Homo sapiens: one gene and its partners. The protein of the gene in region 3 interacts with the protein of the main gene of each other region in a pairwise test. Each region holds a gene or a part of one and is shown on either strand. Other genes may lie near its edges.

Evidence for each region. Proteins that work in one complex are often made in the same cells at the same time.
Region 1: the proteins of LPXN (region 3) and PLSCR4 interact in a two-hybrid assay, tested with the Homo sapiens proteins (one large-scale study listed by BioGRID and IntAct).
Region 2: the proteins of LPXN (region 3) and MAPK6 interact in a two-hybrid assay, tested with the Homo sapiens proteins (one large-scale study listed by BioGRID and IntAct).
Region 4: the proteins of LPXN (region 3) and TGFB1 interact in binary tests that used the Homo sapiens proteins (3 or more experiments, as listed by UniProt).

What each region holds. Positions count from the first base shown.
Region 1 is NC_000003.12:146,192,032-146,195,674, forward strand, and holds the end of PLSCR4 (phospholipid scramblase 4), read right to left. Parts: intron 3,252-3,643; coding exon 3,093-3,251; intron 2,425-3,092; coding exon 2,380-2,424; 3' UTR 304-2,379; downstream 1-303. UniProt on the Homo sapiens protein: Catalyzes metal ion-induced ATP-independent rapid bidirectional and non-specific movement of phospholipids (lipid scrambling or lipid flip-flop) between the inner and outer leaflet of the plasma membrane and participates in the redistribution of phospholipids between membrane leaflets.
Region 2 is NC_000015.10:52,025,650-52,029,292, reverse strand, and holds part of MAPK6 (mitogen-activated protein kinase 6), read right to left. Parts: intron 1,655-3,643; exon of another isoform or gene 1,420-1,654; intron 1-1,419. UniProt on the Homo sapiens protein: Atypical MAPK protein. Phosphorylates microtubule-associated protein 2 (MAP2) and MAPKAPK5.
Region 3 is NC_000011.10:58,548,232-58,551,874, forward strand, and holds part of LPXN (leupaxin), read right to left. Parts: intron 3,002-3,643; coding exon 2,834-3,001; intron 2,650-2,833; coding exon of another isoform or gene 2,566-2,649; exon of another isoform or gene 1,922-2,565; intron 1,916-1,921; coding exon 1,742-1,915; intron 1,637-1,741; coding exon 1,555-1,636; intron 1-1,554. UniProt on the Homo sapiens protein: Transcriptional coactivator for androgen receptor (AR) and serum response factor (SRF). Contributes to the regulation of cell adhesion, spreading and cell migration and acts as a negative regulator in integrin-mediated cell adhesion events.
Region 4 is NC_000019.10:41,340,349-41,343,991, forward strand, and holds part of TGFB1 (transforming growth factor beta-1 proprotein preproprotein), read right to left. Parts: intron 1,900-3,643; coding exon 1,822-1,899; intron 1,686-1,821; coding exon of another isoform or gene 1,683-1,685; coding exon 1,535-1,682; intron 1-1,534. UniProt on the Homo sapiens protein: Transforming growth factor beta-1 proprotein: Precursor of the Latency-associated peptide (LAP) and Transforming growth factor beta-1 (TGF-beta-1) chains, which constitute the regulatory and active subunit of TGF-beta-1, respectively.

The DNA of each region.
Region 1 (3,643 bases), on a different chromosome or scaffold from region 3:
GCCACCGTGCCCGGCTGACTTTAATAATTTAAAATTTATTAAATTAAAAATATATAAATTATATTTTTATATATTATAAAAATATATATAATATATATTATATATAAATTATATATATTATATATAAATATATATAATTAAAAATATATAAATTAAATATATATTAAATATATAAATTAAAAATAATTTAAAATTTATATTAGAAAGCAAGGGCCTTGAATAAACCTAATAATCAATAAAAATTACTTCAAAATCCCTGTGAAAAAAGTATTTGAAGATTCAAAGTCAAAAAATAAAACAGTGTTTTACTATTAACCATTGTATATTTATTTAAAAGCCATAAAGAATACGAAAAAGCATGAACGCACAAATTCCAGAGAATTTGTTTTTTAATCAATCCGATCAATTTTACACAACAAAATATCATTAAGAAACATAGAAATCATGTGAATTGTATTAAAACTATGACATATGACAATATTATATAAAGAAAATTTTAACTCTAAGAGACAAATATAATTTTTTAAAAAAGAAATTAAAAATATCACGTCTTATGCTAAATATATATAGATATATTTATTATGATGCAGCAGGTTTTGGAATACAGGGATTTAGGCAAGTTAAAAATAAAAAGTTTATATGCTTAAACTTTCTGAATATTGTTTGTCTGATTTCCTATTTAAATATCAGACATCATTATAGGAAATACATAGTCTACTTACGATTGCAATGGCACTTTCAAATATAAGGCAATTAATATTTTAGAAAGCAGCAACTTTTACTTTTTTTAAAAAAAAAAGCTAGTAGCAGCATGTAAAAATGAGCATTACGAGAAACTCAGAAAAACAAATTTACCCTGAAAAGATGAATATAATTAAAAAACAAAGCACCTTTCATTTCAAAAAGAACTGTAGGCTAAGACCCTCATCTCAGAATAACCCCATCTAAGAACACTCAGGCTTTCTTTATTTAATAAGCAGCAGCAGAAGAATACATCCCATTCTACATACTGACTGTGTTAAAAAAAAAAAATGCAGTCCATATGCAGGTAGAAAACTAAAGTGCAACAGAAGCAAGTTAATTAGAGTGTACTCACTTATACACTATGCTTTTAATTAGTTAACACAAAAATGTGTAATTGATAATTTATTATTGGTCCTACATATTATTTACTGGCATGCTGTAGACCATAGAGAAATAGAATGTTTACTGTGTTTTATTATTATTACTCTGTGTAGATACATATTTATCTATCATGTCAATAAAAAGAAGCAAAGCAGTATTAAGCAGCGGTGGAATTTGTCGCTTTCACTTTTTATAAAGTGCTACATAAAATGTCATATTTCCAAATTTAAAAACATAACTCCAGTTCTTACCATGAGAACAGCATGGTGATCACGAAGGATCTTCTTGAAAAAAACAAAAACAAAAACAAAAAACAATGATCTCTTCTGGGTATCACATCAAATGAGATACAAAGGTGTACTAGGCAATCTTAGAGATCTGGCAACTTATTTTATATATAAGGCATCTGTGACCAAGAGACGTTATGAATTAAATGTACAAATGTATTATGTATAAATGTATTAAATGCAAGCTTCATATAATGACACCAATGTCTCTAAGTTGCTCAGAGATCTTGACTGGCTGTGGCCCTGGCCAGCTCCTTTCCTGATAGTCTGATTCTGCCTTCATATATAGGCAGCTCCTGATCATCCATGCCAGTGAATGAGAAAACAAGCATGGAATATATAAACTTTAACATTAAAAAATGTTTTATTTTGTAATAAAATCAAATTTCCCATTGAAACCTTCAAAAACTTTGCAGAATGAGGTTTTGATATATGTGTACAAGTAGTACCTTCTTAGTGCAAGAAAACATCATTATTTCTGTCTGCCTGCCTTTTTGTTTTTAAAAATGAAGACTATCATTGAAACAAGTTTGTCTTCAGTATGAGGACATGTTGACGGAGAGGAAAGGTAGGAAAGGGTTAGGGATAGAAGCCAGGTTATTTTATGCCAACAAAGTCTGCTCTAAAAAGCCTTATTGTTTCACTACCTATTAATATGAGAACTCTGGATTCATTTTCCCTTATCTCATGTTTATAGTGTTTTAAGCTTACTTTGTATATGTTTACTGGGTTAATGAGTCACAGCTTTTCAGGATGAACTCCTATTCTACTAGAGAGATACTCAATTGAAACACACTTTTAGATTGTGTTCTTGCAAGCCCACTCTCAGCTGTCAAAGTTAACACCCAATAAAAATACTCTACAAAGCAAAGAAATACACTTGCAAATAACTGAGTGCTGACTGTAAGCCCAATCCAACTTTTCCATTTTTCAAAATTAACCATAGTTGATGGCTTGCTGTGTCTCTCTATCTTGAACGTTGTGGTGGAGATCTTTCAAAATACATGAAGTCCTGAAATTGGAAAAAGAATTATATGTAGATATATAGATAATTAGGTATAATGCATGCGGTATTATCCTTTGTAATTTATTAGGGGATTCCCCCATTCCAGTTAAAATACATAAATTTAGGGAAATATTTATGAAGAGCACCTACTGTGAAGAGCAGCAGTTACAAATTTGGAACTGTTAGTTTTCCATTTGAAGTGCCAATTAACTGAATCTCATCATTAAAAAGAGGAAAAACTTCATAATCTCAGGATTGGACAACCCCAAAGAGTACAGTGACAGGCAGAAAGGAAGGAGGAATGGGACATCCACTTTAGAGTTATTTCACTAAGAAATCATAGGCTAGGCATTTTTAAGTAGTGACAATGACAAATAACATGCAATGATGATAATTATACCCAATGGATACCTAATGTTATCTAAGTACTCCCCTGGTCATTTTACCATGATAGCTAACATTCATAACCCTGAAAATTATAAGTATTTTAATCTCCATTTTACAGATGAGGAAACTGAGGCTTTCAAGTGTAAACACTTTCTAAACCATGTAACTAGTAAGTGGCACAGAGATAAGTTGGATTGGTTTCAAGGCTTATTCTTTATACTACACTATACTGCTTCTCCATCAGAAAGAACAACTCTCTCAGGATAACTCAAAAATAGAAGGCTTACAATGAGGAAGCAAGCTCCAAAAATCATGGCTTTCATCTTCACATCCAGGTCTAGTGGGAAGTGAATGTCAAAATGGTCAGCATCTGCCATTGCTGATAACAAACCATTCCACTTCCGGATAATACTGCCGATGTTGGATATGCCATCAAGGGATTTGACCTGGAATGACAAGAATGTGCCTTTATGATGATTGAAACGCATTGAAGCATGTTTTAATGTTCTGCTTATGTTCAGATAACATAAATACAATGCAGAAAAAGACTATGTAATTATATAATTTGAAATGAGAAAATAATGGCCAAAAAGGGTTAACTGCCTTGCAACTGGTTAATAACTGAGCTAGGGTATTCTTAAAAGTCTCAGACTGCTGCTCTTTCTTCATCTTCAAATGAGTTATTAAGGGACCTTTTAAGAAGAGGTATGATTTGAACTGATTATGAAATTCTTCTCAACATAGTAAAGGGTGGGAATTGGGAGAGAGTCACTTCCAAACTAGGGAAACCTATGAGCAAAAACCGGGAAACAAGTACTGTTCACTTCACATCACTTAA
Region 2 (3,643 bases), on a different chromosome or scaffold from region 3:
ATGCCTGTAATAAGGAGGCTGAGGTCAGGAGTTCCGAGACCAGCCTGACCAACATGGTGAAACCCCATCTCTACTAAAAATACAAAAATTAGCCAGGCGTGGTGGTGTGCGCCTGTAATCCCAGCTACTGGGGAGGCTGAGGCAGGATAATCACTTGAACCCAGTAGATGGAGGTTGCAGTGAGCCAATATTGCGCCACTGCACTCCAACCTGGACGACAGCGAGACTCCGTCTCAGAAACAAAAAAAAGCATACAGTATAACAAGGTGTAAAGTAGAAGGAAAACAAGAACATATGTCTCATAAAATGAGAAGTAGATGAATAGGCCGAAAACAGTGGTCAACTATATTGAATGCTCCTACAAGAGCCTGTAAGACTAATTTAGTAAATAGAAACCACTGGCAACCTTGACTAGAGTAGTTTTAGTGGTAAGAATGGAGGCCAATCTGTAGTAGGCTGAGAAGCAAAGGGAAGTGGAGAGAGCACAAAAAGACAACTTTTGAAAACTGGCTTGGAAGAGAATCAGAGAAATGAGGCTGTAGCTAGAGAATAATGTGGAATGGCGAGAGGGCTTATAAACAAGGAAGCCACACTTAGTGCTGTCCAATAGTGTTGTCTGCAATGATAGGGATGTTCTATATCTGCACTGTCCAATAGAGCAGCCATTAGCACCATATATGGCTACTGAACAACTGAAATATGACTAGCATCACTGAGGACCTAAATTTTTTAAATTTTTCTTTTAACAGCCACACATTTCATTGCAGAAAGCACTATTGATTAGTAGCTACCATACTGGACAGTACAGCCCTAAAGCACATCTGCATATTAATAAAGATAATCCAGAAAGGGAAAAATTCATGATGTAGGCAAGAACGAGGTAAGTCCTTAAGAAGTCAACAGGCTGGCAGGGTGCGATGGCTCACTCCTGTAATCCCAGCACTTTGGGAGGCCAAGGCAGATGAATCACTTGAGGTCAGTAGTTCAAGACCAGCCTGGTCAACACAGAGACGAATCCGTCTCTACTAAAAATACAAAAATTGCCGGGCGCGGTGGTTCACACCTGTAATCCCAGCACTTTGGGAGGCCGAGGCGGGCGGATCACAAGGTCAGGAGATCGAGACCATCCTGGCTAACACGGTGAAACCCTGTCTCTACTAAAAATACAAAAAATTAGCCGGGCGTGGTGGCAGGCGCCTGTAGTCCCAGCTACTCGGAAAGCTGAGGCAGAAGAATGGCGTGAACCTGGGAGGCAGAGCTTGCAGTGAGCTGAGATCGCACCACTGCACTCCGCCTGGGCAACAGAGCGAGACTCCGTCTCAAAAAAAAAAAAAAAAAAAAAAAATACAAAAATTAGCCGGGCGTGGTGGTGGGCACCTGCAGTCCCAACTACTCAAGAGGCTGAGGCAGAAGAATCACCTGAATCTGGGACGCAGAGGCTGCAGTGAGCCAAGATCGTGCCACTGCACTCCAACCTGGCCAACAGAGTGAGACTCCATCTCAAAAAACAGTAAATAAATAAATAAATAAATAAATAAATAAAGAGAAATCAACAGGCTGAGCAGAGTGGCTCATGCCTGTAATCCCAGCACTTTTTGAGGCCGAGTCAGGATGATTGCTTGAGCCCAGCCTGGGCAACACAGGGAGACCCCGCCTATAAAAAAAAAAAAAAAAATTAAGATTAAAAAAAAAGTCAAGAGAAGACATCCAGAGCACAAATGGCACAATCTACATGGGATACAACATGAACAAAGCAAGGCATGAAATTACAGTAACGGGTAGAGATGAAGACTCAGAATATGTATTAAGCCTGATTGGAATCTTAAGCATAAAACTCAATTACAGAGGGCTATAAAATCCAAGCAGGAGGGGGAGGGTAGGTAACTTACATCTACTAAGGACCTATTATGTGACAGGCATTTTCTTTTTTTTTTTTTTTTTTTGAGAGGGAGTCTCGCTCTGTCACCCAGCCTGGAGTACAGTGGCACGATCTCGGCTCACTGCAAGCTCCGCCTGCTGGGTTCAAGCAATTTTTCTGTCTCAGCCTCCCGAGTAGCTGGGATTACAGGCATACGCTACCATGGCCAGTTTTTTCGTATTTTTAGTAGAGATGGGGTTTCACCACGCTGGCCAGGCTGGTCTTGAACTCCTGACCTTGTGATCCGCCCGCCTCGGCCTCCCAAAGTCCTGGGATTACAGGCATTAGCCACCGCGCCCGGCTGTGACAGGCATTTTCTTTTTTCAAGACAGAGTATTGCTCTGTCGCCCAGGCTGGAGTGCAATGGTGTGATCTCGGCTCACTGCAACCTCCGCCTCCTGGGTTCAAGCGATTCTCCTGCCTGGGCCTTCAGAGTAGCTGGGAGTACAGGTATGCACCACCATACTCAGCTAATTTTTTGTATTTTAGTAAAGACGGGTTTTCATCATGTTGGCCAGGCTAGTCTAGAACTCCTGACTTTGTGATCCGCCTGCCTCGGCCTCCCAAAGTGCTGAGATTACAGGCATGAGCCATCGCGCCCAGCCATGACAGGCATTTTCTAAATGACAAATTATTTCTCTCATCTCAAACTACAGTCTTGTAAATGTCATTTTACAAACAAGAGCACTGATGCTCTTTACACACACAGTAAATGCCAAGATTTGGACATAGGCCTGTGACTATAGGGTTAGAATCTTCCCACTGCATAAGGTGGGAGGTTAAGGCCAGGCACGGTGGCTCACGCCTGTAATCCCTGCACTTTGGGAGGCCGAGACGGGTGGATCACTTGAGGTCAGGAGTTCAAGACCAGCCTGGCCAACATGGTTGAAACCCCATCTCTACTAAAAACATAAAATTAGCTGGGCGTGGTGGTGCATGCCTGTAATCCCAGCTACTTGGGAGGCTGCAGCAGGAGAATCACTTGAACCCAGGAGGCGGAGGCTGCAGTGAGCGAAGATCACACCATTGCACTCCAACCTGAACAATAAGAGCAAAACTCCGTCTCAAAACAACGACAACAACAAAACAAAAAAAGGTAGGAGGTTAAGAACCACTGTTTCGGTACCTGGAATTAACATAAACAGCAGATCAATCTGGAAGTAATCAACAAGTGCCAACAAGCCTAGAGGGACTAGGCCAGAGGCAAAAACTATCCTGCCAATGCTTTCCACAGGATAACTAAGGAAAACTTAATAGCTACTTTTTAAAAATTCAAGTGAAAATACCTGTTAAGATGGAAAGAAACTGACTTGCTTACAACTTAGATTATCTACTTTATTGAACACAGATGTATCAATTAGAAAATCAGCACTGTTTTATAATACATACTGAAATAATATCTGGGCATATTAGAAAAACTAAGTCAACATACTCTCTCTCCAATTTGTACATTAAGAAAGGACAATTATTAAACTGAGTCTAACCAGTTATTAAATTACAGCTTAGATTTTAGAGTGGGCAAAGATCATCTAGATCTGTGCTGTCCATGTAACCACCAGCTACATCCAACTATTTTTATTTTTTTTTGAGACGTAGTCTTGCTCTGTCACCCAGACTGGAGTGCAGTGGCGCTCACTGCAAGCTCCGCCTCCTGGGTTCATGCCATTCTCCTGCCTCAGCCTCCCAAGCAGCTGGGACTACAGGCGCCCGCCACCCGGCTAATTT
Region 3 (3,643 bases):
GTTCCCCACCAAAATAAAGGTGGTAACATGTATAAAACATAGACATGGGACCCAGGAAACAGAGCATCCAAAGAGGAAACTAATAAAAGGAATTTCCAAGAGTAATTACTAGATATAATTCTAAGTTAATGAACCAGAATGACTGCTACTCAGCAGGAAGAAATCATTTCATGTTGAATCAGGAGGAGGAAAGTCTCCTGGAGGGATATCTCCAGAAAAAAAAAAAAGAAAAGAAAGAAACTGACTTGTTGCCAGATGTAGTTGGCCATTTTGAAAAGAATTTCACAGTTCTGTTGCATAACTTAGTGATAAGTACAATAAAAACTAAGCCAATTTCAAAAAGGATTCAAATGTTAACTTTAGAAAAAAATGAATTTATACCAAAAGGACACTGTGATAATAATATTAACACTACTATACCTCCATGTGCTTGGCACTATTCTAAATACCACGCTTGTATTGTCTCTAAATCCTCATAACAACCCTATAAGGTAGGCAATTTCATTAGGACTATTTTACTGATGAGGAAAGTAAGGTACAGAGATGTTAAATGACTTGAACAAATACCACAACCCAGATTTGAACCTGGAAGTCTGACTCTAAAATCCAGACTCTAGTGTAGTCAGTTTGCTACATGGCTTACTTGTGAGCAGTATTCTATGATTGTCAACATATGCACACTTAATACTGATCTAACCTGTAATTATGACATAATTATATATTGAAAAAACAGGGGAGGGGAAATATGTTAGGAGTGAGTGGGGTAATAATAACATTTCTAAACCTCATCTTCCCTCTTAGACAGTCAATACATAATGGTTAAAACTGGAAAAATAAAACAATCTATAACAATATAAAGTTATTATTTAAAACACATAAGCAGGCCAGGCGCAGTAGTTCATGCCTGTAATGCCAGCACTTTGGGAGGCCAAGGCGGGCGGATCACGAGGTCAGGAGTTCAAGACCAGCCTGGCCAATATGGTGAAACATTGTCCCTACTAAAAATACAAAAATTAACCGGGTGTGGTGGCAAGTGCCTGTAGTCCCAGCTACTTGGGAGGCTGAGGCAGGAGAATCGCTTGAACCCAGGAGGTGGAGGTTGCAGTGGGCGGAGATCGCACCAGAGATCGCACCACTGCACTCCAGCCTGGGCAACACAGTGAGACTCCGTCTCAAAAAAACAAACAACAACAACAACAAAAAATAAGTAAATATCAGAAGAAACAGCTAAAATAATTTGGAGAGGAGAACTGGATTTGGAGATGAGAAAGGGACTTTTTCAATATTCAACAAGAAAAGGCTTTTTCAATATTACCCTTGAAGTAATATTTGAGTTTTTAAACTATGCATTTGTATTTCTGTGATTTAAAAAATCAATTTAAAGGGAAATTATAAATGTTGGAGAAAGGTAGGGAGGGATGGTATCTAGTACTGAAATGGGCACTTTGATAGTACTGATAGGAACCAGGACTCCCGTGACTACCAGGAAAGGTGTTGCTGGTCTTATAACTACCCACTGGGGTGTGGGATACAGCCTCTCAAGTCGGGTCATACCTTCTGCACCAAACACCTCTCCGCAGTGAGAGCAGAAGAAGTGCTCTGGGTGCCAGGTCTGGTTCATTGCTGTCAGCACTTTCTGGAAAGGGAACACACAGATATTATAATGATGCAGAAGTTGTAAAGCATGACTCTGGTTCTAAGTGAGTGACTGAAAGCTGGAGAGGAGCGGGGATTTACTTACATCCAGGATGGGAGCAGCGCAGTAAGCACAGCGTGGAGAAAAAAGTTGGTGGTAGTCGTTGGGGCAGTAGGCCAAGCCACTCCGCTCAAAGAAGGGACTGGAGCCAATCTCTTCTTTGCAATGAGTACAGACAAAATGCTCAGGATGCCATGATTGCCCTAGAGCATGGATCACCTGTGGAGTGAAATAAAGCCTGACACAGGAGGCCAGTTGAGTGCTCTACAGCCTACAGGTTGCACAACTCTAGGGAGCACTCTTCACATTGTACCCCTTGTAGACAACACGCCCTGGAATTATACAACACTGAGGCCTAGACCTAGGTTCCACCTAAGGCCATCTGTGGTCTGTGCTTTATGGATTGATAATAAAAGGATGCCCACTTCCGGGACTGATCACTGTGATGAAAGCCTGTAAATGTTCACAACCACTGCACTGCCACAGGGGGTGGCAGAAACAACATATAGCACATTGATGACAGAGAAGTTGTAACTGTAGCCTTAGTGTGGAAGGGACCCCTGGAAGAGGAAAAGGCCAAATGACAGTTTTTATTCCTCTAGTTTGAACACTTTATTCCACGCCCCATGCAGTCAGGTCTCAAAGCTTTTTATCATAGCTTCGGTGAAGGACGATGCAGAACAGGAGTTTGCAGCTGTGACTTGGAGCTGAGTTCAGCTGAAAATTGTAATCAATCAATTTAGACTGGGAATGTGTGAACAAAGGGAGCAGTGAGAAAGGTCATCTCAGTAAAGGCAGTACAGAAAAATGGTCAAGAACTCAAACTCAGGAGACAGTCTCCTGGTTTCAGATCTTACCTCTACCTCTTATTATGCCTTGGATATGTCCATTAATGTCTCTGAGTCCTCAGTTTCCTCATCTTTACAAAGGGAGCAATCATTCTTCTTGAAGGGCTGATGTGACCATTAAATGAGGAAATACTTGTAAAGCACTTAGCTCAGTGGCCAGAGCACTGTAAGTGATTAGTAATTATTAATGCTAACTAAAATATCTTAAAATATAAGGGGAAAGAGCAAACCTTGATGAGACAGAGAGAGACAAAGAAGGCTGTAGGACCAAAATTTCAGCCCATCTCACCTTCCCAGCAATCGGTTTCTGGCAGGATGCACAATGGCCCTTGGGCACTGTGGCAATGCCAAGGTCCTGCAATTCCTGCTCCAGACCCCCAAGCATTGAGTCCAGGGAGGCCTTGTGATCCTGCTTGTCTGGTAAGTGCTTCTTGCCAGCATCTGCTCTCACTGCAACCTGGCCCAAGGGAAGAACCAAGAACAGAATCAGCCTCATTTTTATTCTCATTGGCATCTTCTAATGACTCTATAAATTCACCTCTACTGACTGATCTCTTGGCCTTTCCCCAACCTTCCTGCAAGACATTGGAAAAATCTAAAATTTCAACACCAATAAAAATCTTTTCATCTCCCTTTCATCCTAAACTCCTCAGGCCAAATGAAATCTGACTAATTTTATATTTGTAAATCTTTTCTTAATGTAGGAAATTTAGTACATGAAGATGATACCCTTTGAAGATCTTAGGATGACCCCAGTTCAAAAATTAGTCACATCTCCCTTTTACTCATTTATTTGGCAATAATTGTTGAATACCTGGTTTGTGCCAATCACTGCTCTAAGCACTTGGATTAAAGCAAAGATAAGACAGACCAAGTGTCTGGCCTCATGGAATTGCATTCTGTGGGCGATAGACAATAAATAATTAAATAAATAAATATATGTTGTAATGTCAGACAGAGATAAGTTATAGAAAGAGATAGAAGGGACACAGCAAGATGGTAAGAAGAATTGATTTAGATGGAGGTAATAATCAAAGAAGGCCCCTCTAAGGAAGTAATATTTGAGTAGATACTTGGGACTTAGAAATATTGACATTTA
Region 4 (3,643 bases), on a different chromosome or scaffold from region 3:
GAGGTTCCAGTGATTCTCCTGCCCCAGCCTGGGTACCTGGATAGCCGTAATCCCAGCCGAGTAGCTGGGATTACAGGTGCCAGCCACCACACCTGGCTAATTTTTGTATTTTTAATAGAGATGGGGTTTCACCATGTTGGCCAGGCTGGTCTTGAACTCCAGACCTCAGGGATCCGCCCACCTCAGCCTCCCAAAGTGCTGGAATTATAGGCGTGAGCCACCGCGCCCAGCCTGCTGCCACTTTCTATTAATAAAATCCCAGCATTCTAATATTCTAACATTCCAACACTGAGTTCCAACATGCTGAGATACCAATATTCTGCTTTCTCCAACTCCAACATTTGTGGATGTGAATATTTCAAAACAGAATTCTACCACTGTGAGCCCAATATTCAAGGACTCCAATCTGCCAACACTGGTATCCACAATTGGCCAGTGGTGCAGGAATTCCACATGGGCCATCTTCCCATTTTGAATCCCCAAATTCTAGGATTCCAATGTTTCAGCTTTCCTTGAGTCCGACATTTTCCATTTCAGTAATTAACACCAAATTCTAGCATTCTAGAATCCCAGCATTCTAGAACCTCAACCTGCCAACAATTTAGGGATTCAAGATGGTGACCTTCCAACTTTGAATTCCAACAATCACAGGGTTCAACTTTCTAACATTCTGTGATTCCAACACTCCAGCAAGAAAGCAAGGCTGGGCGTGGTGGCTCACACCTGTAATCCCAGCACTTCGGGAGGCTGAGGCAGGCGGATCACGAGGTCAGGAGATCAAGACCATCCTGGCTAACATGGTGAAACCCAGTCTCTACTAAAGATACAAAAAATTAGGCCGGGCGCGTTGGCTCACGCCTGTAATCCCAGCACTTTGGGAGGCTGAGGTGGGTGTATCACGAGGTCAGGAGATGGAGACCATCCTGGCTAACACAGTGAAACCCCATCTCTACTAAAAATACAAAAAAATTAGCTGGGCGTGGTGGCACGTGCCTGTAGTCCTAGCTACTCGGGAGGCTGAGACAGGAGAATCGTGTGAACCCGGGAGGTGGAGCTTGCAGTGAATCAAGATAGCGCCACTGCACTCCAGCCCAGGTGACAGAGCGAGACTCTGTCTCAAAAAAAAAAAAAAAAAAAAAAAAAGGAACCTGATCCCAACATTACAAGACTCCCAGTTCTTTTTTTGTTTTTTGTGGCTGGGATTATAGGCGCCCACCACGCCTGGCTAATTTTTGGATTTTTAGTAGAGACGGGTTTCACCATGTTGGCCAGACAGGTCTCAAACTCCTCACTTCAGGTGATCCACCTGCCTCAGCCTCCCAAAGTGTTGGGATTACAGGCGTGAGCCACCGCACCTGGCACAAGACTCCTGGTTCTTACACCCAGACCTCATCCCCTGAGCCCTCCAAGCTAAAGGAGACAGATGCTCAGCCCAAGCACAGCAGCAGCCAGGTGTCCAACCTGGAGCACCTGGTCAGCAGATGGCAGTCATGCCCCCAGCCTGGAAGGCCTCCATCCAGGCTACAAGGCTCACCTGAAGCAATAGTTGGTGTCCAGGGCTCGGCGGTGCCGGGAGCTTTGCAGATGCTGGGCCCTCTCCAGCGGGGTGGCCATGAGAAGCAGGAAAGGCCGGTTCATGCCATGAATGGTGGCCAGGTCACCTCGGCGGCCGGTAGTGAACCCTGCTTTGGTGTGGGAGTCAGGGGATAGGGGACATACACACACACTCTCAGAGGGATAGATAAGTGGGGCGTGGGGCAGATGGGAACACACACACGCACACACGTCACAACTGGGCATGGCCGGGGAAGCAGGCCTCACCGTTGATGTCCACTTGCAGTGTGTTATCCCTGCTGTCACAGGAGCAGTGGGCGCTAAGGCGAAAGCCCTCAATTTCCCCTGTAGGAGTGGCGAGAGGGAAGCCAGTCTGAGAGTGCAGCTCACCCAGCCCCTGGAGGAAGAGGAAGGAAGGAGCAAACCCCAGGGGCTTCCTTCCTGCCTCCCCCACCCACCCCACTCTGCCCTCTCACTGCAGCTCTCTCTTTTTTTTTTTTTTTTTTTTTTTGAGACAAGGTCTCGCAGCCTCAATCTCCAAGGCCCAAGCAATCCTCCCATCTCAGCCTCCCGAGTAGCTGGGACCACAGGCGCGTGCTACCACGCATGGCTAATTTTTTTTTTTTTTTTGAGATGGAGTCTGGCTCTGTTGCCCAGGCTGGAGTTCAGTGGCGTGATATCAGCTCACTGCAACCTCCACCTCCCAGGTTCAAACGATTCTCCTGCCTCAGCCTCCCAAGTAGCTGGGATAACAGGCATGCGCCACCACACCCGGCTAATTTTTTGTATTTTTAGTAGAGATGGGGTTTCACCATGCTGGCCAGGCTGGTCTCAAACTCCTGACCTCAGGTGATCCGCCTGCCTTGGCATCCCAAAGTGCTGGGATTACAGGCTTGAGCCACTGCATCCGGCCTACACGGCTACTTTTTAAATTCTCTGTAGAGACAGAGGTCTCACTATGTTGCCCAGGCTGGGCTCAAGCAATCCTCCTGCCCTGGCCTCCCGAAGTGCTGGGATTACAGGCATGAGCCACTGCACCCAGCCAGCATCAATCTCTTGAATGAATGAGTGAATGATGTTTTCTAGGCTCCTACAATGTGCCGAAGCCTGTGCTGTGTGCTTGGGACTCAGCATTGACCAAGACAGATGAGCTCCTTCTAGGCCTTTGTCGAACAGCCCAGGACACTCCTCCCAGTGCCCACCTGCTCCCTAATCCCTATTTTTTCTTTTTCTTTTCTTTTTTTTTTTTGAGACGGAGTTTCACTGTTGTTGCCCAGGCTGGAGTGCAATGGCACGATCTTGGCTCACTGAAACCTCCACCTCCTGGGTTCAAGCAATTCTCCTGCCTCAGCCTCCCGAGTAGCTGGGATTACAGGCATGCATCACCACGCCGAGCTAATTATGTATTTTTAGTAGAGACGGGGTTTCTCCATGTTGGTCAGGCTGGTCTCGAACTCCCGATCTCAGGTGATCCACCCACCTCGGCCTCTCAAAGTGCTGGGATTACAGGCGTGAGCCACCATGCCAGGCCCCCTAATCCCTTTTTTTTCATGTGGCCAAACTACTATTTATCCTGTGAGTCTCCACACAATCACCCTCACCCAGCAAGCCCTCCTAGACTCCCCAGATGGGTCCAGGTGCCTTCTCTGGGCTCCCAACAGCACTTAGGGCGTTCCCCCATCCTGCATGCCTCCCTGTCCCAGCCTTGTCCTCCCTGCTGGTGCCTCCCCATCCCATTCTTGATCATTCTAGGTCATTCCTGCCTGGTGGGGCCTTGACAAGATCTCTTAGGTGTCCAGAAGTGACTGTGGGCCCCATGAGGGCAGAACTGAGGGCTGTCTTGGTTATCACTATGTCCCCCACACCACCCAGCACATGGCCAGGCACACAGCAGGAACCTGTGGGCAATTATTGAATAAAAGCATAAATGAGAGGGAGGTGAGGGAGAGAGATAGGGGCACCATGGGCCCTGCCAGAAACCAGACAGAGACAATCATCTCCTGGACAGATCAAATGAGTTAGTTAGGCTCTCCCTGGCCTCCAGGCCTTTGCACAGGCTGTTCCCTTTGCCTGGAATCTTTTTTTTTTT